5 linked regions of the Homo sapiens genome follow. The protein of the gene in region 4 purifies or fractionates together with the protein of the main gene of each other region. This does not show direct contact. Each region holds a gene or a part of one and is shown on either strand. Other genes may lie near its edges. The genes, in order: SEC24D, N4BP1, TARS1, FAM114A1 and RSU1.

Region 1 (6,617 bases), about 80 Mb from region 4:
TGTGGTAATTTGTTACAGCAGCCACAGGAAACTAATACATTATCCTAAACCATCCACACTCTAGCCAAGCCTCCAGCTGACCCCAGATGCATGAGCAAGCTCAGCCAAAATCAGATGAACCTGGCCCAGATTAGAAAAACCGGGAACCCACTGGGTCATGAGTATTAATAAACAGTAGTGCTAAGCTACTGTTTTGTAGCAGTTGGTTACACAGCATAAGTTAGCTAATATGGTAGCTTTTCCTGCTCCTTTATTTCTAATTCTTCAAGTACTTATGTTTATCGAACCTATTCAAAGACACAAAATAAACTGTAGCCAATTTCGTTATTATTCCAAAAGGATTTTACATCCCAATGCCATAAGATTGGCAGCTTCCCTGTCTCAGTGACATTGGGCTTTGTTTTATGACTTGCTTCAGCCAAGGGCACATGAGTGGTTATGACACATGCCACACATGAGTGGAAGCTTTAAGAGCTGTTGCACATTTTGGCCAGCTCTGTTTCCTCCCTATGCCACAAAATAGCATGTCCTCAGTAGTGTTTGCCTCTTCACGCTGGATTTTGGAATGATAAGGACGGATGAAGCAGAGCCTAAATCCAATCTGCAGCTGCCACAGCCTACATGTAAACTGAGTGATAAATACATCTTTGCAGTTGTAAGCAAAGTTGGGGATTGTTTGCTATGCAGAATGGCCTTGCAAAGCTTGACTGATAAAATTATTAAAGAGTAACCCTCCAAAGAAATCACTTGAGTGAAGAGTTTAGTTCTAACTTTACATTAAAAAAAATTTGTTTTTTTATTGTGCAAGATGTAAAATATACTTTCAGTCTCTATGGGTTTCTCTTATTGAAAAGGATCCTTTAGTTATCTAAAATAGCATATTTCTATAGGATATAGTCTGTTAATTACTCATTAGATAGCGATACTGCCAAAATATGTCAATGTAAACATTGTAGACACTGCCAAGTTTATATGACACCAAAAAAAAAGAAAAAAAAAATCAGCACAGGCTGCTCTTTCATGGAGACCTTTAGTATGCCCATAACCCTAGCATGCTTTCCCCCATACATGCATATAAGGAAGGAAGCCTTCCCTCTATGTGATGAGTATCTCCTAACTTCTATGCTAATGAACAGGATAAATGCTAACAAACTGATGAGTTGCTGAGAAAAATTAATGCTCCTTTGTGAGTGAGACTGTGAGAGTGAGAAGAGTACTTACTGGGCTAGGGATAGAGTCAGGATCCAGCTTCTTCTGGGGCTGTGGCGGACCAGCCATCTGTGCAGGACCTCCAGGGAAGCCTCCTGGGTAAGACAGTTGTGCGCCTGCCATCTGGGGACCAGAGTTGGCTGCTTGGAAAAAATTTAAAGAGAAATGACTATCATCCCAAATCCAGCATGTAAGACTTGTTGACGATATTATGCTGTTCAGTCAAGCATGTTGTATTTTTCATCTTATTAAAAAAAGCAAGGAGTCAAGTATGAGTGTGGTTCCCCATTTCTTTGCTCTTGCCAAAACTCTTCAAAAACTACCATTTCTTAAAAGTAAGTGACAGATACCTAGTAACATAGGAACAAAGCTGATTTTCAGTTAAGGGTTCCCCTGGGTAACACAAAGCCTTCCCCTGCACCCTGTCCGCCTTACCCTGCTGCGGAGGATATCCAGCACCCAAGGTCTGGCCTGGAAGAGGTGGGGGCTGGTACTGGGCATTTGGAGGAGGAGGCCCAGAGAGCCCATCTGGTCTGTACATTGGTAGAGGCAAAGGTGAGGCACCAGGACCATTGAGTGTGGTGGGTGGTGGTGGAAGAACTTGAGATCCAGGCTGCAAAATGGAAGGCTGTGGAGGTCGTGGAGGAGTCTGCAATGATGTGGCTGACAGAGGGCCAGGGGGTCCCTGGCTTGGAGGAGCCATGCCTGAACCTGTGTGAGAAAGGAGACCAGCCCACTTAAATACCACATTTCTCAACTCTCTGACTTCTGCAAAGTACATGACAGAGATGTTTGTTTTCCTGACATAAAGCAAGAGGACACCCTTAGAAACACATGTTTGGGTTTTTTGCCACAAATTGAAATCTTCATTCAGAAAATAGAACAAACGCTATTTTATACAACTGGGATTTTTTCTTTTTTTTAAGGACAGGGTCTTGCTCTGTCACTGAGGCTGCAATACAATGGCAAGATAATGGACCACTGTAGCCTCAACATCCTGGGCTCCAGTGATCCTCCCACCTCAGCCTCCCAAGTAACTGAGACTACAGGCACACACCACCACGCCAAGTTCATTTTTTTTTTTTTTTTTTTTTGTAGAGTTGGGGTCTCGTGATATTGCTCAGGCTGGTCTCAAACTCCTGGGCTCAAGCAATACTTCCTCCTTGGCATCCCAAAGTGCTGGGATTATAGGTGTGAGCCACCATGCCTGGCCTGGAAAATTTTTAAAAGGTAAAAGCAACATTTATAATTTAAGTAAGGGAATTCATAGAATAAATTTTAACTCAGTTGTGTAATTACATGATATATGCATTAATTAAAGCATCTGTATCTGGTACAAATCTAGAAAATCATATAAAAATTCTATTACATAACAAGCATTACTCAGGTAAATTGCACATTCAATAAATTATTTGCATCCTGTGCGTGACTTGACCAAACAAATTTCAGAATTAGGTAGAAATAACCAGAGACAAGAGAAGGGCCACCAACATGCTCTCCAATCATATTGGAAATAGCTGTAAAACCAGATTATGTTTTCCTTTCTCTGATTATGGGAAACTGGGTTGCTTCTTTGGAGACTTATCCATTTTGAAATGAGTAAAAGACAGAAAATAGAGGGGTTTTAATGATACTTCAGAAAACTAATTTTAAGTAACATGGAAACATTCTTCATCTAGATAAATGGCCGACTGTGCTGTCATTACAGTGGAGCTTTCCATGACTCACAGGATATACAGCATTTCTGTTGATGTAAATCTCAGTACTGTGACTCTTTCCTCTCCTATCTTCTCTTTTCTGCCTCACAACATCTGAGCTTCCACTCTTTCCATGATCTAAACACATAATTAAAATGCACTGTGAAACAATGAGTACTATATTTCTGATTTGGGGGCCCCATCATAAACAATACAAGGTTTAAATTATCCTTATTTATTTCTTAAAATAATTTCACTATTCTAATGTTTATTTGTGAAATCAGCATTTTTTGTCTTTTCTTATTGTTCAATCATTGAATGGAAGGTATTCTGAGGGTCCTTCAATTACCTTGAAATAAGTGGCAGCATGATCAAGAAAACAATTAACTATAGCCATACATAAGATAGATGCTTTATTATTAAAAATGTCCAAATACTACTTCAACACAGTATGCCCTAGTTACATCTATTTTAAAAATGAAGAAAACCTCTCTCATTAAAAATGACCAGGACACAAGGCAGTCAATAAACACTAATAATAAAACTATTACCATAGCTGTTGATTTGCATAGCACTGAGCTGGCTGCCCAGCTGGGTGACAGATGAAGTGGATATAGGACCTGGATAAGAAGATTGTGCAGAGGGTTGGTATGGTGCATGTGAGGATGCCACATTGTTGACAGGTGGAGGGCCTGGAAATCTGAGAGAGGAAAACAGGATGTCAAACAATATCACAGCGTCTCAAGCAAATGGCGTACAATAATGTTAATAGCTTGTAAAATTAAATTAAGCCTGTCTAGTAGGCCTAGGAAAATGACTGATATTATATACTAAATCTTTAATTAAGCTTGACATGAACTCAATATGATCATGTAGCATCATCTTATATTTATGCTCACATGCTGAACATGCCAAGACAGAAAAAAAAAATCCTAATGTGAGCATAAAACCAGTTCTGGAAATCAATTTGGGAAACTGAGCCAACCAGAGCCTTATCTATACTAAAGTTAATCATCAACAGAATGAAAATCAAGAAAACAATACAGCCAGGAGCAGCGGCTCATGCCTATTATCCTAGCACTTTGGGAGGCTGAGGTGGGAGGACAATTTGAGCCCAGGAATTCAAGACCAGCCTGGGCAACATAGTGAGACCCCCTTCTCTACAAAAAATAAAACAAAATAAAATAAAAAATTAGCCAGGAGTGGTGGCGCTACTTGGGCGGTTGAAGTAAGATGATCACTTGAGTCCAGGAGGTCAAGACTACAGTGAGCTGAGACTGCACCACTGCACTCTAGCCTGGGCAACAGAGCCAGACCCTGTCCCAAAGAGAAAAAAAAAAAATCTAAAAATTACATCATGCTTTACCTTTGATTTAGCTTGAACTTATTAGACGTTTATTTTTTCTTGTTCTGCATTAAACAATGGCCGCTATCTGGACAATGTGCCTAGCATGGTTAATCTGCCAAATGCGATTAAAGCCTGCCTGAGAGTCACATTATAAATTCTTATGAATTTTAAATTTTAAATTAAGTTTTCCCAAATGGTATACTCTGATTTCAATTTCTCTATCTGAAAACTGGAAACTATTTCCCCATGGCCCATGTCTTGCCTTCTGCCCCCTACTGCCATTGAGAGGTTAGGAGCAGAGCCTGAGGGAAGCCAGTGCTTGCCTGAAGTCCCACAATTTATTTGTGACAACACTAGGACCAGCGTTTTTCCAGGTCTTCAGTGAGTGCACTATTCAAAGCATCACACTAATTTTATCTTGTCATTTTTCTCCATATGTTTAAATTGAATAATTATTATAAACAAAACAGAAAATTAACCTTCCAACCATTACTCTGAGTGCATGACATTAAGCATATTTGCAGAATAGTATCTCACACTTTGAGATAAATAGGTGAGTGATGAAAATGCTCTTTTCCACTCATACCTCTGAACAGCTTATTTCTGCAGTCTATGTTTTATCGGTAGCCGGAATTGACTTTATAATTTAGGACTCTTCTGTAATGATACAGAAAGGCTGCCTAATAAAATACATGTTGCAAGAAAAAAAAAAAAGAAAATGGTCTTTCCATTCTTTCCATTGTACGCACAAGTACAAGCTATCCTATAGCAGAAAATTGGCTAGAAATAATGGAATGAATAACATTGTAACCCAAAAATACTGTTAAACAAAACTATCCAATTTCTCTCCTGTCAAACTTTTCAAAAAGCCCAACACAGTTAGGCTAAGCACCCTTTGACTTAAATACTTTTTGGAAGAAAATGAATAAAAGATAGAAAATACAAACATTAACTTTTCACAGTAAAAGTTTTCTTTATATCTCTAATCAATTAATGACACTGGTGAAACACAAGCACAAAAAATATAATTCTAGTCCTGCATGACACATTTAAAATATGTTGTGATCACTAAAAAATGATTTCAAGAATTACATTAAAGGTCTGTTTTGTAAATCCATTGTTTCCTAAGACGAAAACATTTCTTCTTTTTAAGAAATAATACTTTTTCGTCTTTTAAAAAAACTTTGTCTGCGGGGCGTGGTGGCTCATGCTTGTAATTCCAGCACTTTGGGAGGCCGAGGAGGGCGGATCACGAGGTCAGGAGATCGAGACCATCCTGGCTAACACGGTGAAACCCCGTCTCTATTAAAAATACAAAAAATTAGCCGGGCGTGGTGGTGGGCGCCTGTAGTCCCAGCTACTTGGGAGCCTGAGGCAGGAGAATGGCGTGAACCTGGGAGGCGGAGCTTGCAGTGAGCCAAGATCGCGCCACTGCACTCCAGCCTGGGCAACACAGGGAGACCCCGTCTCAAAAAAAAAAAAAAAAAAAAAAAAGTTTGTCATAGGGAATAAATGAAGTAATTACACACAGGCAGAATATACATGTACTATAGAATATATTCATGGATGCAATGAGGTATGGTTACAGATGTTGGATTTGATAAGCAGAAACTGGGGATGTTGCATTTATATGGAGAAAAAACCTCCCCAAAACATTTTCAAAGGTGTTTCATAAATGCTAGTACTTTTAAATATACAGTTCTGTGAATCATTTTTTGTTTTTACAATACAGGTAGGACAAAATATATTTCAAACAGGAGTTATAACACAAGCAGCTTCAAGTATTTTTTTTAACTTAACAAAGGTTAAGGATTTAAAATAGAGAATGAGAGACTATATAACCATCAGTTATTACTTTCAACTCATAAATGCCTACTTATGATTCAGTGCCTAACATATACCCCAGGAGTTAGGTTTCAGAAATTCACAAATAAATTATTTCTTTCTGACCAACTTAAATATGGTAAGTCTTAAATAGATTTGGTTTTTAAAAGCAATTATTATCAATTTTAAAATAAATAGAATAGTATTAAATGGCTAACAAACCCCTCATATAAATGCCTCACATAAATGAGGGAAGAGATGAAAGAACATCTTAAACATACAAATTAGTTTAATTTTTTTTTTTTTTTTTTTTGAGACGGAGTTTCGCTCTTGTCGCCCAGGCTGGAGTAAAATGGCAAGATCTCGGCTCACTGCAACCTCCACCTCCCAGGTTCAAGTGATTCTCCTACCTCAGCCTTCCGAGTAGCTGGGATTACAGGTACGCAGCACCACACCCAGCTAATTTTTGTATTTTTAGTAGAGACAGGGTTTCACCATGTTGACCAAGATGGTCTCAATCTCGTGACCTCGTGATCCGC
Region 2 (6,095 bases), on a different chromosome or scaffold from region 4:
AATGCCAGCCCCACTGGTACTCAGGAACCAGGAGGGAGCCGGAGGGGTCCTGGCCTCCCCTGCTCCGTGCCCCACTCTGTGTCCTGCCTCTGTAGGGCCTGGGATTTGAAAACCACCAAAGGTCAGATGAGGCCCTGAGGGACCCTCGCTGGAGCCACATGTATTCTAGGGAACACTCACCGGCCTGGGTGCAAAGGTGCCTTCCTCACCGTGGGACTCAGGATGGGAAGGACTCTCCCAGGAGCCAGGCCCGTTTCTTAGGATTCAGTCCTGGTTGCAACCATTGCAACTACTCTTTAGTAGGGAGGTGTTTCTCAACCATGAGGGCACGCCGGGTCACTTGGGATTACCAGAAAACGTGGATGTCAGATTCTGATCTCTAGGGTCTGGGGTGTGGCCTGGGCAGCGCTGCCCCTGGGGATCCCAGTGCACAGCCAGGGTCACAGACCACCAGCTCTGAGGGCAGCAGCACTAGCCCTTGACAGATGAGGGCCCGAGGCCTTGAGAGGCTGCGTAACTTTCTCAAGGTCACGGAGAATAAGTGCAGGAGCAGGTGATGCCCTCACTCCACGGGCTGGCTGGGCATGAGGCCTTCAGAAGAAGGGCCATTCTGGTTGTTCTCTCCCTTCCCTGGCACTGTCCCCTGCATGAAGTGGCTGCTCAAGACCAGGGATGGAGGAACCCTGGAGGGGCTGGGAAGGTGCAGCATCCGGAGGGGATGAGGGGTTTGGGCCCCACCCCTCACCGGCTGGGCCTCATGTCCCTTAGCCACACAGTGGGAAGAAGTAAGGGTTCCCAGCCCTTCTCAGAGTGGAGGTGTGACATGCCAGGGATCCTGAGGGGCTGGCAAGGGGAGAGGGTCCTGCTGGCATTGAGAGACACCCTGGTTTGGGGGAAGTCCCCTGAGCAAGCCCACGTGCGCAGCTGCTAGGGGCAGGCTGCGGGAGGCCCTCTTCTTCCTGCTGCCTGTTTTGGTGGCTGAAACTTTAGACTGATCCAGGAGCCAGACAGGCGGGCAGACAAGCGCATTCTTTTTGGGGGAGGCCGCCGCCTCCTCTTCTCGCTAGAAGCAGGGAGGAGGGGAGGACAGGGCCTGCCCAGGCCTGACCCCAGACTGGGTTTCAGGCTGTGGGGCCAAGCAGGGCTCCCTGGGGACTCGGGGCTGGGGAAGGAAAGCCCCAAAGGCTGGAGTCTGCGGTTTGGAGTCCTGTGACTCTGGGAGCTGAAGCCACCAGGCAGGAGGGGGTGAAAGGGGGCTGGTTTAAGAAGCCCTAAGCCTCTGGGCTTTTGGCTCCAGCACTGGCTGTGGGTACTTCTGCTCTGTTTCTGGGCAAATCCCTGCCTGCCCAGTCCATTTCCCCAGTGAATGCCCCCAGCCCTGGCATCCTCGGTGTGTAGGGGATTGGAACCTGAGCCGGGAAAAAGGCCACGTACAGTTTCCAATCAACATCAACTCATCTGTGTTTCCCGAAATGAAGTGCAAGGTGGCTCTGATGCATACATGGGCTCACTCCTGACACAGCTTCTGCAGAACTGGTCAACTTCTTTAAAAAAATATGCTCTTGGCATCCTCTCGCAGGAACAGGGCTGGATACGGGCCCACCAAGCAGGAAGTGGGGAGGCAGCTTCCTTCCGCAGCCTCCCTGTGCCCTGAAGACTGACAGCCTTGACCCAGGTCTGTCATGGGCCCTCAATTCTTTTCCTTGAAGGGTGGAGGTATCTTAGGTGCCATACCAGCTGCTGAGTCACCTCTGGTGCAGCTTTGCCTTTCAGGGAGGTGGGATGGCCCATTGGAATTCAAATCCTAAATCCTGGACATCTTAGCTTGAAGAAATGGAAGTTCCTGAGCATCTCTGTACCTCAGTTTCCTCCTCTGCAAAATGGAGATAATAACAGCAGCACTTTAGGAGTGAGGTGAGGATTAAAGGAGACAGAAGCTTGCCGGGCACATGGGTGGTGAGGGCACGACACTGGTTGCCGGCCTCAGCTTTCTCAGCACCCTGCAGGCAGGCAGTGGCTGTGCTCACTTCCTCCGGGTGCTCTCTCTGGTGACGGCACCCGAGGGACTCTCCCAAGTGCCTGCCTTGTTCAAGGAACAATGCCCTCTCTAGAACAGCTGGACTTCCCATGGCCCTGCTGAGGCACTGAAAGAAATGTAGGCCCTAACCTAAGCACCCTCATCATTGGACCACAGGGATAAAGGAGTGCGTTCAGAACCTGGAGGATGACGGCTTAGCACTTGGAGATAAGACCTGGCTGGTGGGGGTGTGGGATGACCTGGAAGGGTGGCGAATAGTTAGGTAGGTGTCCGCAGGGCTGCTGATCAGAGCCCCAGTAGCAGTCACTGAGCGGGGCTCTGGGTTGGGCACAGTTCTAAGCACCACGTTTATTCCTCATGTCACCCTTGAAGTAGAAAGCATTATTATGCCTATTTTACAGGTGAGGAAATCCTCATCTGTAAAATAGGCATAATAAAATAATGCTTAGTTACAGTTCTGAAGTATACAGAAAGTCAAACTCCAAATGAACAGTGCTGGCATTTGCCCAACTAGGGAACTGGGGAAAAGAACTGCCGTCAGGGGACTGAAGAGGCAGTGGGATGGGCACAGAGCCACGGCAGCAGGGAACAGCTCGAGAGCCAGGCCGAGTTCTCTGCTGAGGGGCACCAGGCCTGAGTTTCAAGTTACTCAACTCCGAAATAGTTGGCCCCTTCCAGCATTTTCTGACTGGGGTGGATACTCCTGAAGCCCTGTTTGTGCAGGTCTTTGGACCTTTCTAAACAATCTGCAAATCCTTGCTAAAGACAGTAACACGTGTTACTCAAGACTCGATTTCAAAGGACGTAAATCCAACTGGAATGACCAGCTTAAGCAAAAAGTGTGTTAGAATACTGGGGTGTGGTGACGTCCGAGGAAGGGCTTTCCTGACAACAGGAACCCAAGGCTCATGCTGCCAGGAACCTCTCTCACGTCGCCGCTTCTTTCCTGCCACAGGTCGACTTCCCCCAGGGTGGAAAATGGCTTCTGACAGACCTGGGCCTGGCATCCCACGATTCCCACCACCACAGAGGAACTCCCCAGGAGTGACTTGGACTGGCATAGGTTGGGCCGGCTGTCGGCCCTGGCCAGGAAGCCTGAGTGCATCTAGTATGCAGCCTGCGCCAGGTACCCCTCCCCGGACCTGTGTGCCCAGGATGCCATGTGCTGGAGCCTGGCAGGGGAGGGAGAAGGGAGTGGAGTGACCCCAGCCCCACCCCACTGTCCCACTGCAGGGCAGTGGATTCCCGGCCTCTTACTGGTCCTGCTGCCAGATGCCGCAGTCAAGAAGGCACTGTCCTCCAGTTCAGTTGAGCAGACATTTATTAAGCACCTATCAAGTGCAAGGCACTGTGCTAGGCGCCGTGGGAAATACAGAGAACACAGGCGGTCCCTGCCCACGAGGAGCTCACAGTCTAGAAAGGGCAGCAAGACAGTACACAATCAGTGGCAGCAGCACCAGCCAGAGTGGCAAGTGCTCAAAGCGAGACACAAAGTGCTGTGCGGTCACAACATCATGGGGATGCTTCTGGCAGAAGCACTGGAAAGGAGACGAGGACTCAGGCTGGGCCTTCCAGGAGGGAAGCCATTTGGGAGAAGGGCATCTCTAGCGGAGAGAGGTCCATCTGCAGAGCCCACAGGTCATGGGAAACATGTGGCTGCAGGGAGAGTTTGGGGACAGTCAAGTATGGCTGGGAGGTGGACAGCCACGGACACTAAGCTCAGGAGATGTGAACTTTGTGGTCTGGTCAAACAGCCACTGCAGATCACTTCGCAGGAGGAGGGGTGACTAGAAGTATGTTACTGGAAGGTAAATCTGGCCACACTGCAGCATCTGGACGGCAGAGGGCAGCGCTGGGAGGGGCCAGCCAGTTAGGGCCCACCACCCCTGGGTGTCTGAGAGTGGGAGTAGCGGGCAGGGGCCAGCAAAGCACGAGGGCAGAGCAGGGGACCATACGGAGGGTGGGTGTGGAAGAAGGGAGGGGCCCCATGCAAGCTGCAGGTCTGGGGAGCCTGAGGATGTCATAGGGCTTCCTGGTAGAGTGGAAAGTGCACTCCTGAAGGTCAGGGCCAGTCACTACAGAGAGGGGACAGCGAGGAGAGGGACGGTGTGGCCCTAAGGGTGACTGCAGTTTCTCAACATGTGGTCCGTGGATCACCTGCATGGGAACTGCCTGGGGAATGCGCTCATTTGCAGATTCCCGGGCCTTCCTCCAGAACTACTGGGCAAGCATCTGCCGGGTCATGCCCGGTAACCTACATTCTTAACACCAGCTGCCCTCTCCACCACCACGAGCCCCAAAGGTGGGGAAAAGTCTGCAAGCCACCTGCAGAGGAAGAATAGGGTGTTAAGGACTGGCTTTAGGCAAAAAGAAGAGACAAAAAGAATGAGGGAGGTCTGGGAGTGAGGGAAGTGGTGGGAAGCAGGGAAAGTCCGGTCAAGCCATGTGCACCAAGACAGAGCCCCAGCGCGGCCTTGCAGCCAGGCACCGGGCCGTCCCCAAGGGCTGCTCTCAGTCCGCTTTCACTTGGTGGGCGAAAGCCACATTTGCAAACTGGGAAGTGGAGAGTGGGAGGTGAGGGGAAGCACTAGCAATGAATGAAGAGGATTCTTCCGGGAATCAGGCTGTTTCAATCTAAAACATCCAAGATAAGTGGAAACACTGGGGAGGAAGGTGATGAACAGACGGAGGTGAGCCAGAGACACCTCCTGGGCAAGTCGGCCAGGAGGCGGGAGGCGTGGGTCAGAGACACTGCAGGAACTGGGTGAGGACAAGGAGGTGCGAGGAAAGGGGTTGGGGGATGGTCCCACAGGCAGCCACACCTGAGGCGTGGGAGGCAGGTAGGAGCTGGGGGAGGGCGGGGAGAAGAGGGGTTTCTGTGTGTAGATCTGAGTCCTCCCTCACATCCCAGCCGTGCCACAAGCCGCATCGGCATGAGGCCGGCTCTCCCTTCTTCACTGGTCTCAAAAGCCACCCAGGCCCAAGTCCCGGCCAGACAGCCGAGCCTGCCTAGCAACGCTGACCGGCCGCCCAGGATGGCCCAGACACCTTCTGTCTCCTGAATGCAGCCTACAGGGGTTCAAACAGACTGCTTGCATTAAGGTCAGACAAGGCTCTTTTACTTCCAGAGACAGCGGCCTGGAGCCTCGGGAAGAATGTAGGCCCAGGAATCACCCAGCCCCTCAGGACAACCTCTCTGAGCAACAGACATCCTCCCTGTTGAATGAGAGTGACATCTCTGCCCTGCCACCTACTTTACATGGATGCCACGAAGTGGGAGAGCCTGAGCAGTAGACAGGGAAGAGGCGAGCGGCCCCACTGCAGGAGGTAGACAGGCTACAGATACTTATGCAGCAGCCACACTGAGGCTAGTACTGGAGGAGGCTGAGAACCAGTAATGAGTTCTTAATGGTTTGATAATTTGGGTTTTTAAATATTAAATATTAAATATCAGGGGTTTCGGAAGGAATGATGAATTCCGTCTCATGCTGTAACTGATGAAGGCAACCAATGAGCAATCCTTCCTTCCCATAGCCGAGAAAGGGAAAGGGGACAGGCCAATCCCTCTGAAGCAGTAAGTCAGAACACGAAGACTTACAGAACTCAAACATCAAAGGTCAAGTAGCTTCTAGCCAGGAAAAGTGGTGGCCCCCTCAGCCTAGCCAGCACCAACCAGCATGGGTGGAGACTCAGCCTGGCAGTAAGGGCATTTCCTGGGTTTCCTCTGAAGCAGAGGAGAAATAGTGGGTCAGCCAGGCTGCTGGACTGAACCATGAGCCAGAAGGCCAGAATCACTGCAAGACAGCTCCAGCCCGCACACCTCAGTTGTGCTTTTGAAAACAGGTACAAAGCTGAGGCATGGGAGCTGTGACTGAAGTCGCCCTCCTGGCTGGCCTCGTCTTCTACCTCTGCTTCCACAGCTGGGTGACTTGGCCATAGGCCCAAACAATGGACAACCAGTTCCACATTAGGAGGCATCACGGACGCATCTGAGAGGAAACATGATTGAAGGACAAGCTTGGCCTCATGGAGGGCTCTGGATTCATCCCTTGAAGAA
Region 3 (6,064 bases), on a different chromosome or scaffold from region 4:
TTCACCCATTATGTGAGCACTAGAGTGCCAATACACCTGAAAATTTAAAGAAAAATGGCATGGTCTGAGTCTTGGCATACAAGTTGCCAATTAATGTGGTTGTCTGAAAGAGACAGATGATAATATTTACTACAAGTAAACCCAATATATAAAATCCTAAATTTCTAAATCTATAAACTACTGTTTCTATCCATAGCCAAAGTAATTCAAAAGGCTTCCAATTACTAGTGTATTTTTATTTTGGAAATCATCTGGTTTAGCTGTTTTCAAACAAATTAAACTAAACTTGGCATCACTAATTAAATGACATAGACTTTGTTCTCTGAAAACAACTGCTACTCACAATGTGACTAACTCATTGATTGCAATGGCCCAGGTTCTTTTGAGTCAATGTGCCCACAGCACCATGTCTCAGACACTGTGATCTGGCCTTTAGCTGGCTATGGAACATCACTTAGAAATTACATGTTGTTACTGGCCCAAAACAAAGGTGGTACAACCCGACCCCACAACACAATGACAAAACACGAGGACAAACATCTGTACACTGAAATCAAATGGCAGTACTTGGTTTTAAAGTAATCACTGGGATGAGTCAGAATACACCCAAAGCAATGTTTTCAAGATTTAGTATTAAGGTACCAAAGTGACATTAAAAAATTCTCGTAAGAAACTTGAGGGCTCCAAAATACATTTGAAAACCACTAATCCACATACATAAGTGAACAATCATCACTAAAACAAAATACTTTGTCTCCCCTTATATGATACACAGCCATGGAGAATTAAAAAGAAAATCTTGTCATCACATGCAGGTTGACTTTTATAGTGTTATCCAGCAGATTTGCATCTTAAGATGAGAAAAAAATACAGAAATTATCCAATAAAGGCAGTGCTTTGAAGTAAGGTTCAAATTTATTTGTCAAATGTACATATCTTGCTAGAGTGTTCATAGCTTAGAGGCCAGGCACAGTGGCTCACACCTATAATCCCAGCACTTTGGGGGGCCGAGGTGGGCAGATCACTTGAGGTCAGGAGTTCAAGACCAGCCTGGCCAACATGGTGAAACCCCATCTCTACTAAAAATACAAAAATTAGCCAAGTGTGGTAGTGCGCTCCTATAATCCCAGCTACTTGGGAGGCTGAGGCAGGAGAATAGCTTGAACCTGGGAGGTGGAGGTTGTACTGAGGCAAGAGCGCACCACTGCACTACAGTCTGAGTGACAAAGCAAGACTCCATCATTAAAAAAAAAAAAAATTAAAATAAAATAGTGTTCACAGTTTAGAAAACAATTTTTACTTGCTTAATCAATGTTTAATACAATTCCCAAAACATTTTCCCTATTGAAGTGTCTAGTAATGAAAAGACTTATTCAGCTTCACCCCTTTATTTTCTAAGGCAAGCACTTTTATTATGTTCCCTAAATGAAGGACAAAATGAAGATTTCAAATATGACAGTGAGACAACAATAAATGTTAGCCACCCAATCGCAGCAGGACTGAGCTGGAAAAGACTTCAAATGTGAATCTGCATCCTAAAATTCAATGAATACTAATCAGCAACTTACTGCCTGAGCTTCCTCATCCTCAAACTTGAGAAGCTCCAAGGTACAATCTTCTTCCAGAGGGCGGTCCAGGTCCCACACAACATTATTTACTTTAGCAATAACGGTGTTGTCGGCCAGGCCTTGACTTAAAAAAAAAAAAAAAAAAAAAAGTCCACACATATATAAGTACACACGAATCTAATTTGAAAACAGGAAAATAAACACTATTTTTATTATATATTGTTTTTTTATATTGATGTATCTCTATTTTTCTGAAATATAATGATAAAAACAACAAATTCCAAAAATGTACCTAAGAACCTAACTGGAAGATCCTGAAAATGCAGAACATTATCATTTGACATTGAATGCCTCCTGTTTAAGCAGATATGGCAACTCTGATAAATAAGCACTATCAATTTCCAATGGTTTGAATAATCTTAATTTCTCCAACAAATAAGTTTTTTTTTTTTTAATTTTTTAGCGACAGGGTCTTGCTATGTTGCGCAGGCTGGCCTCCTGGCCTGAAGCAATCCTCCAACATCAGCCTCTAGAGTAGCTGGGACAACTGGCACAAGTCACCACACCGAGTTTTCTCTTAATACACCCACCTTTCTCTTTCTACAAAGCTAAGCTATGTAGACTCCAAAGGAAAAAAAAAAGGCCTACTAAATAACTTCTCTGTTCCTCTTCCTGCTTAAAATGTACACCAGATCCTTTCTTTGACAGACAATGCTAACCTCAGAATAAATTCTGCAAATGCCTATGATAATATTTATAACAAATATAGAGGTAAAATGAAAGACTATTTAATAAAACTTTCCATATAATGTGAGTAAAAACATTACACACCCAATATACAACATCGAACATAAAGTATCATCAAGTGATGAAATATCAGAGCACACAGAGTGTAAAAGCTACAGGAGTTCTGAGGAGGGAAAGCAGTACAGGTCAGAGTCATCTGGAAAGGCTTTGAGGATAAAGCACTCACAGGAAGAAAAGAGGAGGCCATGGCATTCCAGATGAGGGAATGGCCACAGATGCAAGCAGAGATGCAAGTGAAGAGAGGTTTTTGCAGGAAGCTGTGTGACTAGAGCAGAGTTGAGTAGGTGAGCCAGATTATACATCTAAATGCACAGCTAGAGAAATAATAGTCTATAACAGCCTGGACATCTCAACGAAGGTAGGCAACATTCTACACTGTGAAGAAAAAGTATACACCCTTTACACTGTAAATCTCAAAGAAACCTACCACTAGAAGGCTTTAAGCTAGCCAGGCTTGCTGTGTTGGTGGCTCTCTATGTCTAAGGGTTTACAACAAAATGTATACAACTCCTATCTGAGGATCAAGAGAAAAGAACCAAACAGAAAGTAAACAACAAACTCCTTTCTATTTTCAATGCTCCTACTAACTTTACCATAGGTTATAAACAATGTTTTCTTTCCTCCTGAGATCAGATGGAGTCAATAAAATAAATACATGCATTTCACAAAACATAACATGAATTTGGCAGAGAGAAATGTATTTCATCATATTGGTGTAAAACAGTTTTCAGGAGATTAAAGAACTGATAAAAAGGATAATCATATTCTCTATATTCTTTGGGAAGAACATGACTTTTATCTTATGATCCAATATGGAGCCCCAAGATTCTAAGAATAGAGTTACTCTGAAAATGTAGATTACACATGGGCCATACTGGATCATTTCAATTTTTCAAAGAAGGGTAAAATAATCTTTAAGATTTGTAACAAAACGGCCAGGCGCAGTGGCTCACGCCTGTAATCCCAGCACTTTGGGAGGCCGAGGCGGGTGGATCACGAGGTCAGGAGATCAAGACCATCCTGGCTAACACAGTGAAACCCCGTCTCTACTAAAAATACAAAAATTAGGCAGGCGTGGTGGCGGGCGCCTGTAATCCCAGCTACTCAGGAGGCCGAGGCAGGAGAATGGCGTCAACCCAGGAAGCGGAGCTTGCAGTGAGCCAAGATGGCGCCAATGCACTCCAGCCTGGGCGACAGAGCGAGACTCCTCCGTCTCAAAAAAAAAAAAAAAAGATTTATAACAAAACTTCAAAGAAAAACCTTTTGACGCAAATGGAACATGTCTTTTTTGTCCTTCCCTTTCATATTCACCACTAATTATGTGAATCTTTAAATAGCCTGTTATCAATGTTATAATTTTTCACAGAACAAAAAGTTATTCTGGACTTTTGTAAAAATTTCATAAAGTATTCTCAGTGCAGATCAGTGACTTAACTCCAGAGCTAAAGCCCATCAATGTTTTATGTAATTCAACCTTTTATTTTTTTCCCTGGAGACGGACTCTCGCTCTGTCACCAAGGCTGGAGTGCAGTGGCTCAATCTTGGCTCACTGCAACCTCCACCTCCCGAGTTCAAGCTATCCTCCCACCTCAGCCTCCAAGTAGTTGGGACTACAGGTGTGCGCCACCATGACTGGCTAATTTTTGTATTTTTAGTAGAGACAGGGTTTCGCCATGTTGGCCAGGCTGGTCTTGAACTCCTGACCTCAGGTGATCTGCCTGCCTTGGCCTCTCAAAGTGCTGGGATTACAGCTGTGAGCCAACACGCCCAGCTATGTAATTCAACTTAGAATTTTATAGTTCTTGAAGAATATTTTTCAACTGAAGACTTGATAAATTACAATGTAATCTAGATCAACATTGTAGAAGGTAGAGGAAAAAGTTCCCAAACTAACAGAAGCCTAAATTTTAATGACACGGCTACAATCTCATTGTGTGACAACAGAGGAATCTATTAATCAACCTGACCTTCAAAATTATCTCTAAAATGAAAGGTTGAACTGATACGTAAAGGTCTATCCAGTTCTCTATGCTCTCACATAGAAACTTGCATGGTATTACAACTTTTTACTTCCTTTGGAGTAAGGTAGAAGAACTTGTAGGTAGAAGCACTTGTCAAATGAATGGAAACACTCCATTCACTTTGTAAAAAGTACTAACTAATGTCTGTGGTACAGTAGATGCTCATGGCTCATAGGCCTAACTGGTTCTGCTTCTACTAGTTGTATAATACGCTTACCAAGAATCAGCCACGTTGGTTCCCCAAACTGTTTTTGTGCTTGTTCTTTTACGTGTTTGGTTCAACAATACAAAATTGATGATAATCAACCACATGACAATTCATATGGTGATTCCAAATGGTTCAATTCAATACATAACACTTATAAATAAACTTCAAAAATATATAATTATAAAATAACACAATAAGGGAATTATGGATTCTATGAAAACCAAGTTGAATGTTTGAGAAGGCTTGATAAATCCAAGTCACACACACAAAAACACTGTCAAGTTAGGTGTAACTCTACAACTACATGAAAATCTGCAAGGATTCTGTGCTCAGACTACTTCTCGTATGTGTTAAGATAATGTAAGAACTCTAATTAGCACTCGCTATCCCCCAAACCTTGCCATACATATATATATTCACTGTTTTATGTATGTATATAAAGTTAGTGAATACATACATATTCACATATTTTAAGTTGAAGTGTTTAAGACCAAGATTGGCAAGCTTTTTCTGTAAAAGGCCACACAAATATTTTACACTTTGCAGGCCAAACATGGTCTCTGTTGTATATTCTTAGTTGTTTTATTTTTTCCAACTATTTAAAAATTTAAGAATCATTTTTGGCTGGGCGCGGTGGGTCACGCCTGTAATCCCAGCACTTTGGGAGGCCGAGGCGGACGGATCACAAGGTCAGGAGATCGAGACCATCCTGGCTAGCACGGTGAAACCCCGTCTCTACTAAAAATACAAAAAATTAGCCGGGCGTGGTGGCGGGCACCTGTAGTCCCAGCTACTCGGGAGGCTGAGGCAGGAGAATGGCGTGAACCTGGGAGGTGGAGCTTGCAGTGAGCCAAGATCGCGCCACTGCACTCTAGCCTCCTGGGCAACAGAGCAAGACTCTGTCTCAAAAAAAAAAAAAAAAAAAAAAAAAGAAAGAAAAAAAGAATCATTTTTATTTTTCGCTTTCAGGACATACACAAACAGATTATGACTAGAGTTTCCCAATACCCAGTTTAAGATATATATATATACACGTGTATATATACGCGTATATATATACACATATATATGTTTTACCAACTCTTATTTTGATAAACTGACCAATTATTGATCCCAATCATATCAGATTAAGAAAGCCTCTCCCCTATTACAAAATATGCATCTAATTCTCAGTTAATTGAAATAACTTCTTCCCACCCCAATAAAAGTTTTAAGACTAGGAATAGTCTTTCATTGAATTTATAAAAATAGTACATTTTTTTCATGTGTTATATGAAGTTTCTTAACCTTTCCATGTGAGATTATGTAGCTTCATTTTTAACTTCAAAACCAAGACATTTAAGTCGAAATAGGTAAACACTGTCTAGTCGGTTTTGTAACATTTATAATCATAGTAAGACTAAAAATATACAATGCCCCAAAAGATAAGACCAAAGTAAACTCTTTCAGAAATTAACTTT
Region 4 (6,617 bases):
TCAAACTTATCTGGTGTCTGCTCCACATCTTTCTTCTTTGTCTCTTAAAAAAGGTGCTTATAGTGGCCGGGCACCATAGCTCACACCTGTAAACCCAGCACTTTGGGAGGCCAAGGTGGGCAAATCACCTGAGGTCAGGAGTTTGAGACCAGCCTGGCCAAAAAGGTGAAACCCCGTCTCTACTAAAAATACAAAAATTAGCCGGGTGTGGTGGCGCATGCTGTAATCCCGGCTACTCGGGAGGCTGAGGCAGGAGAATCGCTTAAACCCAGGAGGCGGAGGTTGCAGTGAGCTGAGATCGTGCCACTGCACTCCAGCCTGGGAGGCAGAGTGAGACTCTGTCTCAAAAAAAAAAAAAAAAAGGTGCTTATCTTCTGTATTCACCTCCCTTGTCCATCCTCCCTCCACAGCAAGACTCCTGTGCCACTACTTCATGAAATCGTTCTCATCAAGGTCAAGTGGCTTCCTGTTGTCAAAGCCACGGACTCATTTTAGTCTTTTTATTACTTACTTGACCTCTCGGTAGCATCCAAAGCTCACCCACTTTTACATCTGCCTTAGAGTGTTCTATTCTGATGGCCTATCTTCTGACTCTCACTTTTTTTCCTTTTTACCATCTTTTAGTATGATTTCAGTTATTTACATTAGAATGCTTCTACATGCATATTGTGACATTATGGGTGCTTCTCAAATTAACCTACAATCCAAGTGCTGTCAGCATTCCAATAAAATATGCACAGTCCAGGGTGGTCAGCCAGCATTCTAATCAGGAAAGCCATACTCTGGAGGCAGCTATTTATAGAGGTTCTATTATCTGTATCTGGTAACATCTGATGCTTTACCAATTACCACACCTAACTGCAAAAATGGGTTTTAATTGGTACACATGGTGGACTATTTACTAGCATTCTCAATATCTGAAAGGGGTTCTAGATGGTAAAAATAAAGGTATTCAAGGAGCTGGCTTCGGTGGCACACTCCTATAATCTCAGCACTTTGGGAGGCCGAGGCAGGAGGATCACTTGAGGCCAGGAGTTCAAGACCAGCCTGGGCAACATGGCAAGATCTGGTCTCTACAGAAAAATTAAAAAATTAGCCAGGCGTGGTGGCATGCACATGTAGTCCTATCTATTTGGTAAGGTGAAGCAAGAGGATCACTTGAATGCAAGAGTTCAAGACTGCAGTGAGCTATGATCTTGCTACTTCACTCCAGCCTGGGCAACAGAGAGAGAGAGAGACTATTTTTTTAAAACAGGACGGGGCCGGGCTTTGTGGCTCATGTCTGTAATTCCAGCACTTTGGGAGGTCGTGATGGGTGGATCACCTGAGGTCAGGAGTTCAAGACCAGCCTGGCTAACATGGTGAAACCTGGTCTCTACTTAAAATACAAAAATTAGCTTGGCATGGTGGCAGATGCCGGTAGTCCCAGCTACTCTGGAGGCTGAGGCAAGAGAATCACTTGAATCTGGGAGGCAGAGGTTGCAGTGAGCCGAGATCATGCCACTGCACTCCAGCCTGGCGATAGAGGGAGACCCTATCTCAAATAAATAAATAAATATAAATAAAAATTTTTAAAAGTATTCAAGATGTGTAAATAGTTAAGTATATTTTCTGCTCCTCCCAGTTTTATATGAATAGGGTGTTACAAAGGATTTTGCCCTGTGTAAATGGTCTTCCATCCATCTTTCAACTCTGGGGAATTCTGGTGACTTGATGCCAGCTATCAGGGAAGAAACCTTAGCTCTGAAATCCAGACAGTTGCCTTGAGTAAACCTTTCATTCAAGATGGTGATCAAAGCACCTAAACAATGGGATGTTCTCAAGCCTACATGAGAAAGAGTTCTCATACACCATTTTCAACTCTCTTGTTAATTACCGTTTCATTTAAAAATGTCAGTGTGGTACAATGTGATCTGAAACTTGATTTCGCTTATAGAATGTGGTAGTGGTGAGATTGTACTATAAATTCTTTGCTAGCTACCATAATCTATTTAAAAAGCAAAACAAAACCCTAAGAGCTGTGCCCAACCAAACTGGCTTAGAGACAGAAACCTTCCAGGGCTGAGGGCTTGGCCTCTGTTGTTATTTATATGTTAACACCTGAGCCATCTTACCCACTTCCATTACTGAAATAACCACATAGGTGCTGATAGCCTCTGAATCACCTATCTCTCCAGACCATTTTAACCAACTGTCCACAAAGTATCTTCACTTGGATGTTGCATGGCATATTTAATACTGAACTCAGGCCGGTGCGGTGGCTTGCGCCTATAATCCCAGCACTTTGGGAGGCTGAGGTGAGAGAAGAGCTTGAGTCTAGGAGTTTCAGACCTGCCTGGGCAACACAGGGAGACCCCGTCTCTACCAAAAACCAAAAACCAACTGAACTCACCATCTTCTCAATTATTCCCCGTACCCCAACTAGCTCTTGCTGTGTCCTAGTGTTAGTGGTTCCCAAACTCTAGTCCACAGACTGACTGTAAGAGTGTCACCTGGGGGAATTCATTAAAAATAGAGTCTCAGCTTCCACTATGATCTTGTGCCTAAGAATCTCTTAGGGTAGAGCCCAGGAATCTGAATTTTTAACAGGCTCCCCACATGATTCCAATACACCTCCAGATCTGGGAAGCACTGCTCTCTATGGCAGAATGGCACCTCCATCCACCTGGTTGTCCAAGCCAAAACTGGGTGTCACCGTTCAGGGAACACAGAATAAGGAACGTAGGCAGTAGGGAACTCTGTCCTTTTAGAGCAGGCCAAAAAGGGAAAATACTCAAACAGAACCGGAGAAAACTCTGCTCATCCGGTTTAGGAGGCTAAATGCTGTCATGTCTCAGCCTGTGTCCCCTACTCCTTGTCTCTCTTGACCATAACTTTATGGCATTTAAACATTCTGCTTCTCCTTTTTTAGGGAGAGAACTATCCATGGTGGTCCACACTCCCATGTTTTCCCATGAGAGTACTCAACAGTGTTAACATTGGGATTCTTGACCTTCTCCATAATCGGCCTTATGCGTTGGTGTTGAGCAGTAGGGATGACATTTTAAAAATTCTGGGTAACCTTTCTTGGTGTTAAGAATTCAGAGAAATTTAATCTAGATTGGGTCTTTTAAGGGTTGACTGGCTAGTATATAATAAGGTCCCATAAGAGCTCTGGGAACAAATGTTACTCCCAACCAGTACTCAAGACAAACATCTTTGAATTGAGGCTGAAGACTTCTCTGATTCTTTAAGACGAATTTAAATGCTCTGTCTAAAGCCTCCCTTGTGCCTGTCCTATCTAGTACTAGAGGACATGTAATCATTGCTCTCATACAACAATGTTTCCCCCAACTAGACTGTAGGCATCCTGAAGATAGTTACACCACCCAGATTTCTGGGCATAATGCATTGTGTCATGATGCTGGCAGAGGCCTTAGAGAATCCGGTCCAACCTCCAATGCTGAGGACCATTTCTCACGGAGGTTGTAGAGTGGGTTCCTACAGGAGAAGGCTCAATTCAATGGCTTCTGAGTCTGTATGTCAGAAAGGACAAGAAAGCAAAGAAGCCCTAAAGATAGAGATAGTTTATCCGAGTGCATAAATGGTGTGGTCCTTAAAAACAGAGGTGCCAGCCAGAAAGGTGGCCTCCTCCTTGACTCTGGCCACCTGCTAGTCGCAACACCCCATCTGCCAAGTTATGGTGGCCTTGCTGCCTGAGGCAAATGTGAGCCTAATGATGTGGATTTTAAGGGGATCCAGATCCAGGTACTTACAAATATATATGCATACACATACACACCACACACACATTTATGCGCATTATCACAAAATCTAATGTGCCTTAGAAGTACGTCCTCAAAGTCTATTCTGCCCGTTTTCTTTTTTTAGTAAAGCAAGCATTCCTCACAGAAACTTTTTTTTTTGAGATGGAGTTTCACTCTTGTTGCCCAGGCTGGAGTGCAATGGTGCAATCTCGGCTCACCGCAACCTCCGCCTCCCGGGTTCAAGTGATTCTCCTGCCTCAGCCTCTCGAGTAGCTGGGATTACAGGCATGCACTACCATGCCCAGCTAATTTTGTATTTTTAGCAGAGACGGGGTTTCTCCATATTGGTCAGGCTGGTCTCGAACTCCTGACCTCAGGTGATCCGGTCCCCTCGGCCTCCCAAAGTGCTGGGATTACAGGTGTGAGCCACTGCACCTGGTCAGAAACTTTTTTTTTTTTTTTTTTTTTTTGAGACGGAGTCTCGCTCTGTCGCCCAGGCCGGACTGCGGACTGCAGTGGTGCAATCTCGGCTCACTGCAAGCTCCGCTTCCCGGGTTCACGCCATTCTCCTGCCTCAGCCTCCCGAGTAGCTGGGACTACAGGCGCCCACCACCGCGCCCGGCTAATTTTTTGTATTTTTAGTAGAGACGGGGTTTCACCTTGTTAGCCAGGATGGTCTCGATCTCCTGACCTCATGATCCACCCGCCTCGGCCTCCCAAAGTGCTGGGATTACAGGCGTGAGCCACCGCGCCCGGCCCTGGTCAGAAACTTTTTTAAAGGGCTGATGAGAATTTATCAGGTGTAGATGTACATGGGGTCAAATAGGCTTTTGCACTTGGCTATTTTCCTGCAGAACCTGCCATTCCTCAGGGGCAGCCTGTGTTCAATCCAAACAACCACCTTGTAATGAACTTTAGATTCAAGAATTTGTTTTGTACAATTCACTCTGCTCTGGAGCAACAGGGAAAGAGTTGTTTTCATCAGTGCAAAATGATTTCTTATGAGTATGCAACAAGAGGCAAATAAAATAGAAAAAAATGAACAATAATCAAAGACTAGGCATAAAATTGACTTCTAATAAAAGGATAAGCTACTAAGAGAGACAGTAGAATCCCCTTTCCTGGTAATCTTTAAAAAGAGACTAAATTTGCACCTACGTAGAATGGTTTAAATAAGACCTGGGTGAAAGTGATATCCTCTCTTCCAGGCCCTTTCAGCCAACCTATCGGCTTTCCTGCCCTTCTTAAAACAAACTCACAGGTACTGTCCCCACTCCTTTGTTCCCTCTGAGCTTCTGACCCAACACAATACATCCAGAGCCACGGGCCCGACTCTGTGGCCAGTGTTTGCACTTCCATCCAGGTAATTCCGTGGTGCTCTATTATTAGGAATTTCTCCCCTTTCCAAGGTCCTTGAAATGCTGTCAGTGTTGTAGGGGGTGGGGAAGGTGGAGTACCTGTTACCAACCAGCTCAATTTCTGTAGCATTCAGGAGGTTTATAAGGTGTTTTCAAAGCAAGATTCATTCCATTTGACCAAAACATTTAAGGCAAATGTGGTAGAAGCATACTGATTTTTTTTTTTTTTGAGACAGAGTCTCGCTGTCACCCAGGCTGGAGTGCAGTGGCTCAATCTCAGCTCACTGCCTCAATCTCAGCTCACTGCAACCTTCACCTCCCAGGTTCAAGAGATTCTCCTGCCTCAGCCTCCCAAGCAGCTGGGACTACAGGCATGCACCACCACACCTGGCTAATTTTTGTGTTTTTAGTAGAGACGGGGTTTCACCATGTTGGCCAGGCTGGTCTCGAACTCCTGACCTCAAGTGATCCACCTGCCTCGTCCTCCCCAAGTGCTGGGATTACAGGCATGAGCCACCGTGCCCGGCCTTACTATGCTATCTTCATGAACAGTCCTGTTATAATTATTATGTCTGAAATTGGAATGTATATGGATTTTGAATTAGTATGGATTTTGAATTAGTAGAGCTTGTATAGTTTAAGTCATCTTAGGTGATAATGGTGTGGCTAAGTTATATTTTTCTTACTGTACCAAGATATTTGTTAACAGTAGCACTTAGGATGAAAATTGGGAACCATAGCTCCCTACATGAGACAGACAGTGTGGAGGCAAAGCAGGCTCTGGAGTCAGGAAGACTCTGTTCAAATCCTCACTCTGCCATTTCCTATTTGGGCTGATTCTTGACATAATCTAGTGGTCCATCTCTTCACCAATACCATGCAAACTGCCAAACCTGCGGCTTATTAATGTCCCACTTTTACTTCCTATGTGTTTTGTGGCTGTTATTGCTATTGTTGTTGTTCTAAGATCAATGGATGAAAAAGTGTCCTAGTAGCCAAAAGAATGAAAGGGCTTGTCTCCAGATACTTTTGAAGTGTTATTGTAGCACCACAGCATTTTAGAGCTGGAATGATACTGAAGACCACTTACTCAAAGAATCATAAAAAGGACTTTGAAAATTCTTTAGCCTAAACTAATTATTCTCAATCCTGGCCAAACATTACAACCACTTGGGGTACTTTTAAAAATTGCTGATGTCCAAGCCCCATTCCTGAATCAGAATCCTTGGGCTTGGGACCCTAGCATCAATATTTTCTATTCTATTCTATTCTATTCTATTCTATTCTATTCTATTCTATTCTATTCTATTCTATTCTATTCTACTCTATTTTATTTTATTTTATTTTATTTTATTTATTTTTTTGAGACAGAGTTTCACTGTCATTGCCCAGGCTGGAGTGCAATGGTGCAATCTCGGCTCACTGCAGCCTTGACCACCTGGGTTCAGGTGATCCTCCTGCCTCTTCCTAAGTAGCAGGGACTACAGGTGCATACTACCATGCCTGGCTAATT
Region 5 (6,617 bases), on a different chromosome or scaffold from region 4:
GAATAGATTTTTTTAAAACTATGTGTAAGTATTTTGGGAAGATGAAGGTTCCTGTTTCCCTGGTTCAAATGGGATAAACATAGGTAGTGTCCCTGAATGCATTCCTAAATTGTTACAGAATCATTAGCCCAGACAGGACAGCTACCATGGCTTCTAGAACATGACCGGGTGGCCACAGGCACTCAGCATGCTCGCTGAATTAGCCGTTATCTTCATCTCCTCCACAGGGTATGTGCATATGACTGTCAGAAACCAGTAAGGCAAAACAGGAGAAGCTGAGAACACTGCTTCCGACGTCTGCAGGTGTGGCTTCAAATCTGGGCTCTACCACTTATTGCCTGGGTGACTTTGAGCAAGTTAATGATGCTCCTTAAATCTGTTTCCTTACCTATTAACTATATAATGACAATACATTGTGAGGTTTGAAAGATTAATCCATACAGAGGGCTTAGCACAATGCCTGGTATGTGGTAAATGTGTGCGTGTATTATATTAATACACTCCATGCATAGATGGCATGGTATTTCAATCATATTATCTATTATTTTCATCCTCCTAACAAAGAGTGCACAACGTTGTAGAATACAAACATATAATAAATTACATAGGCATCTTTGACACGCCCTAAAGACTTAAGCATTTACAGCTGTTTCATTATTTATTTATTTTGAAAGAGTCTCACTCTTGTCGCCCAGGCTGGAGTACAATGGCGTGATCTTAGCCCACTGGAGCCTCTACCTCCCAGGTTCAAGTGATTCTCCTGCCTCAGCCTCCCAAGTAGCTGGGATTACAGGCATGTACCACCACACCCAGCTAATTCTTGTATTGTTAGTAGAGAGGGGGTTTCACCATGTTGGCCAGGGTGGTCTCAAACTCCTGACCTCACTCAGGTGACCCACCCACGTTGGCCTCCGGAAGCGCTGGGATTACAGCAGGCATGAGTCAGGCTGGGATTACAGCAGGCATGAGCCACTGCGCCCAGCCTCACTTACAGCTGTTAAGAACACCAAGTTACATAGACCACCATTCAAACACTGAGATTGCAAACCACATTACCGTTCTCCGGTCTGCACTGTGTCCTGAAAAACTAAGAGGCGAAACCTCCTTGCAAGTAATTGCTTGTTCTGATGTGTGCCTTTCATTTGGCCTCACCCTTAAAATTATAAGTTACACAGAGTCCAAAGGAATAATTAATGGATATGCAAAGAAACGGATGAAATAAGAAGGATCTTTATGAGGTATGGATACTATAACTAAAACTACCATTTAATGTACTTCAGGTTTATTCTATTTGATACATGAACCAATATTTCCCCAACACAATCTTTTCCAGCCCCATACTTTGTAGTGTTTTAAGCTAATGTTCTAAGTTTGAAGACAAAAGAAAATGAATTAACATACGGTATACAAAGATCTCACATCTGATCATTCCATTCTATTGAGATTAATAGTTTTTCAGGAAACCATAAAGAAAGTGGGGAGGGTTCTGCTAATATTGATGGAGATTAAGTTGCTTCTTATGTTTTCTTCAACAGTTAAAGCTCTGCAACCATCCTGTAAACCCAAGTTTCCAAGCTGGCAGGGCTAGCCCAATAACACTATTTTATTTGCTTAACACAGTGTTTTAAAGAATTCTGAGACGAGGTACGGTGGCTCACACCTGTAATCCTAGCACTTTGGGAGGCTGAGGCAGGCGGATCATGATGTCAGGAGACTGAGACCATCCTGGCTAACACGGTGAAATCCCGTCTCTACGAAAAATACAAAAAATTAGCCGGGCTTGGTGGCGGGTGCCTGTAGTCCCAGCCACTGGGGAGGCTGAGGCAGGAGAATGGCGTGAACCTGGGAGGCAGAGCTTGCAGCGAGCCGAGATCACGCCACTGCACTCCAGCCTGGGTGACACAGCAAGACTCTGTCTCAAAAAAAAAAAAAAAAAAGAATTCTGAAAATGAATGCCTTACGGTAAGGCAGGCCCTAGGAGTCACCTCTCCTTGGCATCCAAGCCTGGCCCTGGTGAGCCCTTCGGGGCTAGGATACAACACAGCACAGTATCACACAGCAAACCTTTCAGACACACTCAAGAGTGAACTCCAACCGGGCGCAGTGGCTCACACCTGTAATCCCAACACTTTGAGTGGCGAAGGCAGGTGGATCACCTGAGGCCAGGATTTCAAGACCAGCCTGGTCAACATGGCAAAACCCCATCCCCATCTCTACTAAAATTAAAAAAATTCGCCAGGCGTTGTGGCAGGTGCCTGTAATCCCAGCTACTTGGAAGCCTAAGGCAGGAGAATCGCTGGAACCTGGGAGGCGGAGGCTGCAGTGACCGTGATCATGCCACTGCACTCTAGCCTGGGCAACAAGAGTGAAACTCCATTTAAGAAAAAAAAAAAAAAAAAAAAACAAAGTGAACTCCGTTTCCACCACTGCCTGAGTGACACTGGGGACTTTATAGAACCTCCATAGCTCTCTACTTTCTCATCTATAAAATGCTGACGGTAGGTGAACCAAAGAGGGATGTTATGAGTGTGAGAAGCACTTACCACAGAGTAGGCACTCAGGTCTGTATCATTTGAGAACCTCTAATCTAGATGTTATGGAATGAACTATGTCTTCCCAAAACTAATATGCTGAAGCCCCAATCCCAAATACCTCAACATGTGACTATATTTGGAGATGGGGCCTTTAAAGAGGCGATCAGGTTAAAATGAGGTCCTTAAGGTGGACCCTATCCCAATCTGACTATTGTCCTCATGAGAAGAGGAAACTGAACAGACTGAGGGACAGCAGGGATGCAGAGGGAAGATCATGTGAGCACAGCAAGAAGACGGCCACCTGCAAGCCCAGGAGAGAGGCCTCAGGAGCAGCCAGCCCTGCTGACACTATGATCTTGAACTTCCAGCCTCCAGGACCGTGGGAAATAAATTTCTGTTGTCAAAATCACCCAGCCTGCGGTGTTTTGTTTTGCAGCCGTAGGACATTAACAAAGTAGGTACTATTAATCCTATTATTGGCCTTTTGGGCTTTGCTAGCACCTCAAACCTGAAATACTGTTTTACAGCATTAAGCATCACACGCTGATGGAATCTGCTCAATGGGGACACTGCAAATTCCATTTCCTTTGATTGGAAACATGCTCTGATCAGCACTTCTCTATTCAGAGGCCACATGCAAGGCAGCTGTGAAACATGCCAACCTCAAAGATGCTCTGGTTGACTGTAACATACGTGAGATTTCTTTCACTGTGAGCTACACAGATAAAATGCCATTAAGACTCCATCTCTCTACCCAAAGACAGAACCTGGCGAATGAAGGTGGAAGAACTGTAGAGGCAGCAAAGCTCTGTGTGGAGATGAGACGAGCTGTGTCCAGCCTCCCAGGGAGCCCAGGAGCAAAACACAGAGGCTCAACACTGACCCCTGCTGCTCACACACTTGATCTAGACCAAATGCTCCTTGGCCACATTTTTACATCATCCTTTGGTTTAAAAAATAAAAAAATTAACCCACCTGCACAAACTTGCTATCCAAAGAAGAGGTCTTTACGCTGAATTAAAAAAAAAGTCATCTCTAGTCTTTTCTCTAACAATGGATCTCCTGTATCTAGATTGTGTTTTCTTTCAACTAGGTTCATGTGAATTTATGAATAAATAATACAGGGTATGGTTTTCAATTATTATCCATACCAATTGTAGCATTGGTTATAATGGCAAAGCAGTGAGTGTTATAGTTCTTATGGTGAAAATATAACTACTTCACATGTAATAGACACCTTATAGTCATCTTAACATAACAAACAATAATTTCTCAGTAGATAATTTTAAAATTCAATATAAGACCAGGCACATTGGCTCACACCTGTAATCCCAGCAATTTGGGAGGCCGGGGGTGGGGGGGGGAGGTGAATCACCTGAGGTCAGGAGTTCAAGACCAGCCTGGCCAACATGGCAAAACCCCATCTCTACCAAAAATACAAAAATTAGCGGAGCATGGTAGCTGGCACCTGTAATCCCAACTACTCCAGAGGCCAAGGCAGGAGAATTGCTTCAACCTGGGAGGCGGAGGTTGCAGTGAGCCAAGATCGCGCCACTGCACTCCAGCCTGGGCAACAGAGTGAGACTGTGTCTCAAAAAATAAAAAAATAAAAAAATAGAAATTAAAAAATTCAATGTAAACTCCCAAACGAACTCTGGTTACATAATGCCTATCATAAAAAAATACATTCAATAAATAGTTACTGCAGGACACAGAGTATTTTAATTATTAGTGGAAAAATTACCAGTTTTCAAAGCATGTCTGCCATTCTCAACAGAAACTTGGCCACAAGCACATCCCAACGAAAATCCTGCTGCTGTTCCCCCAGCAGCCGCCCCCCGGGCTATGCACAGCTCTGAACTCGCCAGTGTGTGGCAACGGCTGTTCCTCTTGACCCTAGCACACTGGGCCCAGCCGCCCAACTTCTCCTGGGAATTCTGACTCAGGTGAGGAATAAGGCAGTGGGTGTGCTGGTTTGACAAGACCATGGGACAGGTGGGCAAAGACCACTGAGAAGTACCATCACCAACGTTTCCAAGAAATAAAGATATTGTTTTGCACTTGTTACACCATCACAGATAAAATGGTTTTTACAATAGTCATGCACCGCTTAATAATGTTTCACTCAACAATGAACCACCCGGGAGGCTGGGGCAGGCAGATCGCTTGAGTCCAGGAGTTCAACACCAGCCTGGGAGAAATGGCGAAACCCCATCTCTATAAAAATTACAAAAATTTGCCGGCAGTGGTGGCATGTGCCTGTAATCTACGCTACTTGGGAGGCTGAGGTGGGAGGATCACTTGAGCCCAGGAAGCCGAGGCTACAGTGAGGCAAGATCATGCCACTGTAGTCCAGCCTGGGCAACAGAGTGAGACCTTGTCTCAAAAACACAAACAAACAATGGACCACAAATATGACAGCGGTCCCACGAGATAACAATAATGTACTATATTTTTACTGTATGTTTTTGTATAAAGACACACACACTCACCATCATGTTACAATTCCCTATGGGATTCCATACAATCACATGCTGTACAGTTTTGTAGCCTAAGAGCAAAAGCCTGAGTCACAAGCACACCATCTAGCCCAGGTGTGTAGTAGGCTACACCATCTGGGTGTGTGTAGGGACATTCTGGGAATGACCACACAATGACAAAATCTTATTATGCATTTCTCATAACGTATCCCCACCATTAAGTAATGCATGAGTGTTCTAATAATAGCAAGTATTAAGACCATCAGGTACCGGGTGGTACACTAGGCCCTTATAGATATTAATTCACAATGACCCTATGAGGTGCTCTTATTATTCCCATTTTATAGATGAGGCACCTGAGGCACAGAGAGGTCAAGCAACTTGCCCAAGGATACACAGCTAGTAGCAAACAAAAAAGATGCTTACAAAAAAGCCACCAGGGCCACTAGAGCCAGAATGTCAGAGGACTGACAAAAAGTCAAATGCCATTACCGATTCAGTCATGCCAAAGGGGCTACACCTCTTCTTTGTTTCAATGAAGCATTTCCAGTTTTAACCCTATCATACAATCAAAAATAGAAGTTGTCAGTTCCATCTTGTTCCTGATAGCTGGAAACTGCTTCCCTCTGGAAACTGCGGAGAAGCCTGCAGGAAGGAGACAGAGTACATGCTCCTTCTCCAGAGCTATGCTTTCTCCCTTAGCCAACCTGAATCTCTTAACTAAAAGCAGTAACATTCCTTCTTCAATAAATTTTTCCCAAGTACTATGCCAAGTAGAGAGACACTTCAGCTAGGCTGGATGGGATGGTGGGTCAGAACTGAGTATTCTCGAGGGGCCTCCTTGAGGAGGTCACAGGAAATGGAGTCATGTGAATAGTTAAGTCCTTCCTTCTTTCAACAAGCACTAACTGACAAGGGGGCAAGGGCTAGCTGGAGCGAGAAAAACGAAAAGGGCTCCCCAGGCCAAGAAGCGGCGTGTTTAAAAACAGAAAGGTGGGCACATACACACAACCTAGAGGAGTGAAAACATAAATAATTTTAAGGCCGGGCACAGTGGCTCACGCCTGTAATCCCAGAACTTTGGGAGGCCAAGGCGGGTGGATCACTTGAGGTCACGAGTTCAAGACCAGCCTGGCCAATATGGTGAAACCCCGTCTCTACTAAAAATATAAAAATTAGCCAGGTGTGGTGGCGCACGCCTGTAACCCCAGTTACTGGGGAGGCTGAGGCAGGAGAATCGCTTGAACCCAAGAGGTGGAGGCTGCAGTGAGCAGAGATCACGCCACTGCACTCCAGCCTGGGCAACAGAGCAAGACTCCATCTCAAAAACAAAAAACAAAAATTAAAAAACAAAAAAATGATTTTAATAGATTATATCTAAAATTACAGGTCCTCCCCAGCTCTTTAATCTATCCCCCAAAGAAGGTCGACATGGATAGCATGTGTTCCAGGTTTAACAAGACTTTTGAGATAGCTCTTCCAGATAACCCATGATCATATTTGTTTATTATTTTGCCTGGTCCTTTAGAAAGACCACTCCCTTGAAAGCAGGTTGTTTTCGAGATTTATCTGAAAAATATTTTAGTCTAACTTGGAAAAAAAA

What was found.
Region 1: the proteins of FAM114A1 (region 4) and SEC24D fractionate together in Homo sapiens (co-fractionation; one large-scale study listed by BioGRID). This does not show direct contact.
Region 2: the proteins of FAM114A1 (region 4) and N4BP1 fractionate together in Homo sapiens (co-fractionation; one large-scale study listed by BioGRID). This does not show direct contact.
Region 3: the proteins of FAM114A1 (region 4) and TARS1 fractionate together in Homo sapiens (co-fractionation; one large-scale study listed by BioGRID). This does not show direct contact.
Region 5: the proteins of FAM114A1 (region 4) and RSU1 fractionate together in Homo sapiens (co-fractionation; one large-scale study listed by BioGRID). This does not show direct contact.

The regions. Positions count from the first base shown.
Region 1 is NC_000004.12:118,813,807-118,820,423, forward strand, and holds part of SEC24D (protein transport protein Sec24D), read right to left. Parts: intron 3,607-6,617; coding exon 3,458-3,606; intron 1,921-3,457; coding exon 1,645-1,920; intron 1,353-1,644; coding exon of another isoform or gene 1,350-1,352; coding exon 1,222-1,349; intron 1-1,221. UniProt on the Homo sapiens protein: Component of the coat protein complex II (COPII) which promotes the formation of transport vesicles from the endoplasmic reticulum (ER).
Region 2 is NC_000016.10:48,535,385-48,541,479, forward strand, and holds the end of N4BP1 (NEDD4-binding protein 1), read right to left. Parts: 3' UTR 3,342-6,095; downstream 1-3,341. UniProt on the Homo sapiens protein: Potent suppressor of cytokine production that acts as a regulator of innate immune signaling and inflammation.
Region 3 is NC_000005.10:33,448,917-33,454,980, reverse strand, and holds part of TARS1 (threonine--tRNA ligase 1, cytoplasmic), read right to left. Parts: intron 2,641-6,064; coding exon of another isoform or gene 2,542-2,640; intron 1,693-2,541; coding exon 1,569-1,692; intron 37-1,568; coding exon 1-36. UniProt on the Homo sapiens protein: Catalyzes the attachment of threonine to tRNA(Thr) in a two-step reaction: threonine is first activated by ATP to form Thr-AMP and then transferred to the acceptor end of tRNA(Thr).
Region 4 is NC_000004.12:38,879,918-38,886,534, reverse strand, and holds part of FAM114A1 (protein NOXP20), read right to left. Parts: intron 1-6,617. UniProt on the Homo sapiens protein: May play a role in neuronal cell development.
Region 5 is NC_000010.11:16,806,104-16,812,720, forward strand, and holds part of RSU1 (ras suppressor protein 1), read right to left. Parts: intron 1-6,617. UniProt on the Homo sapiens protein: Potentially plays a role in the Ras signal transduction pathway. Capable of suppressing v-Ras transformation in vitro.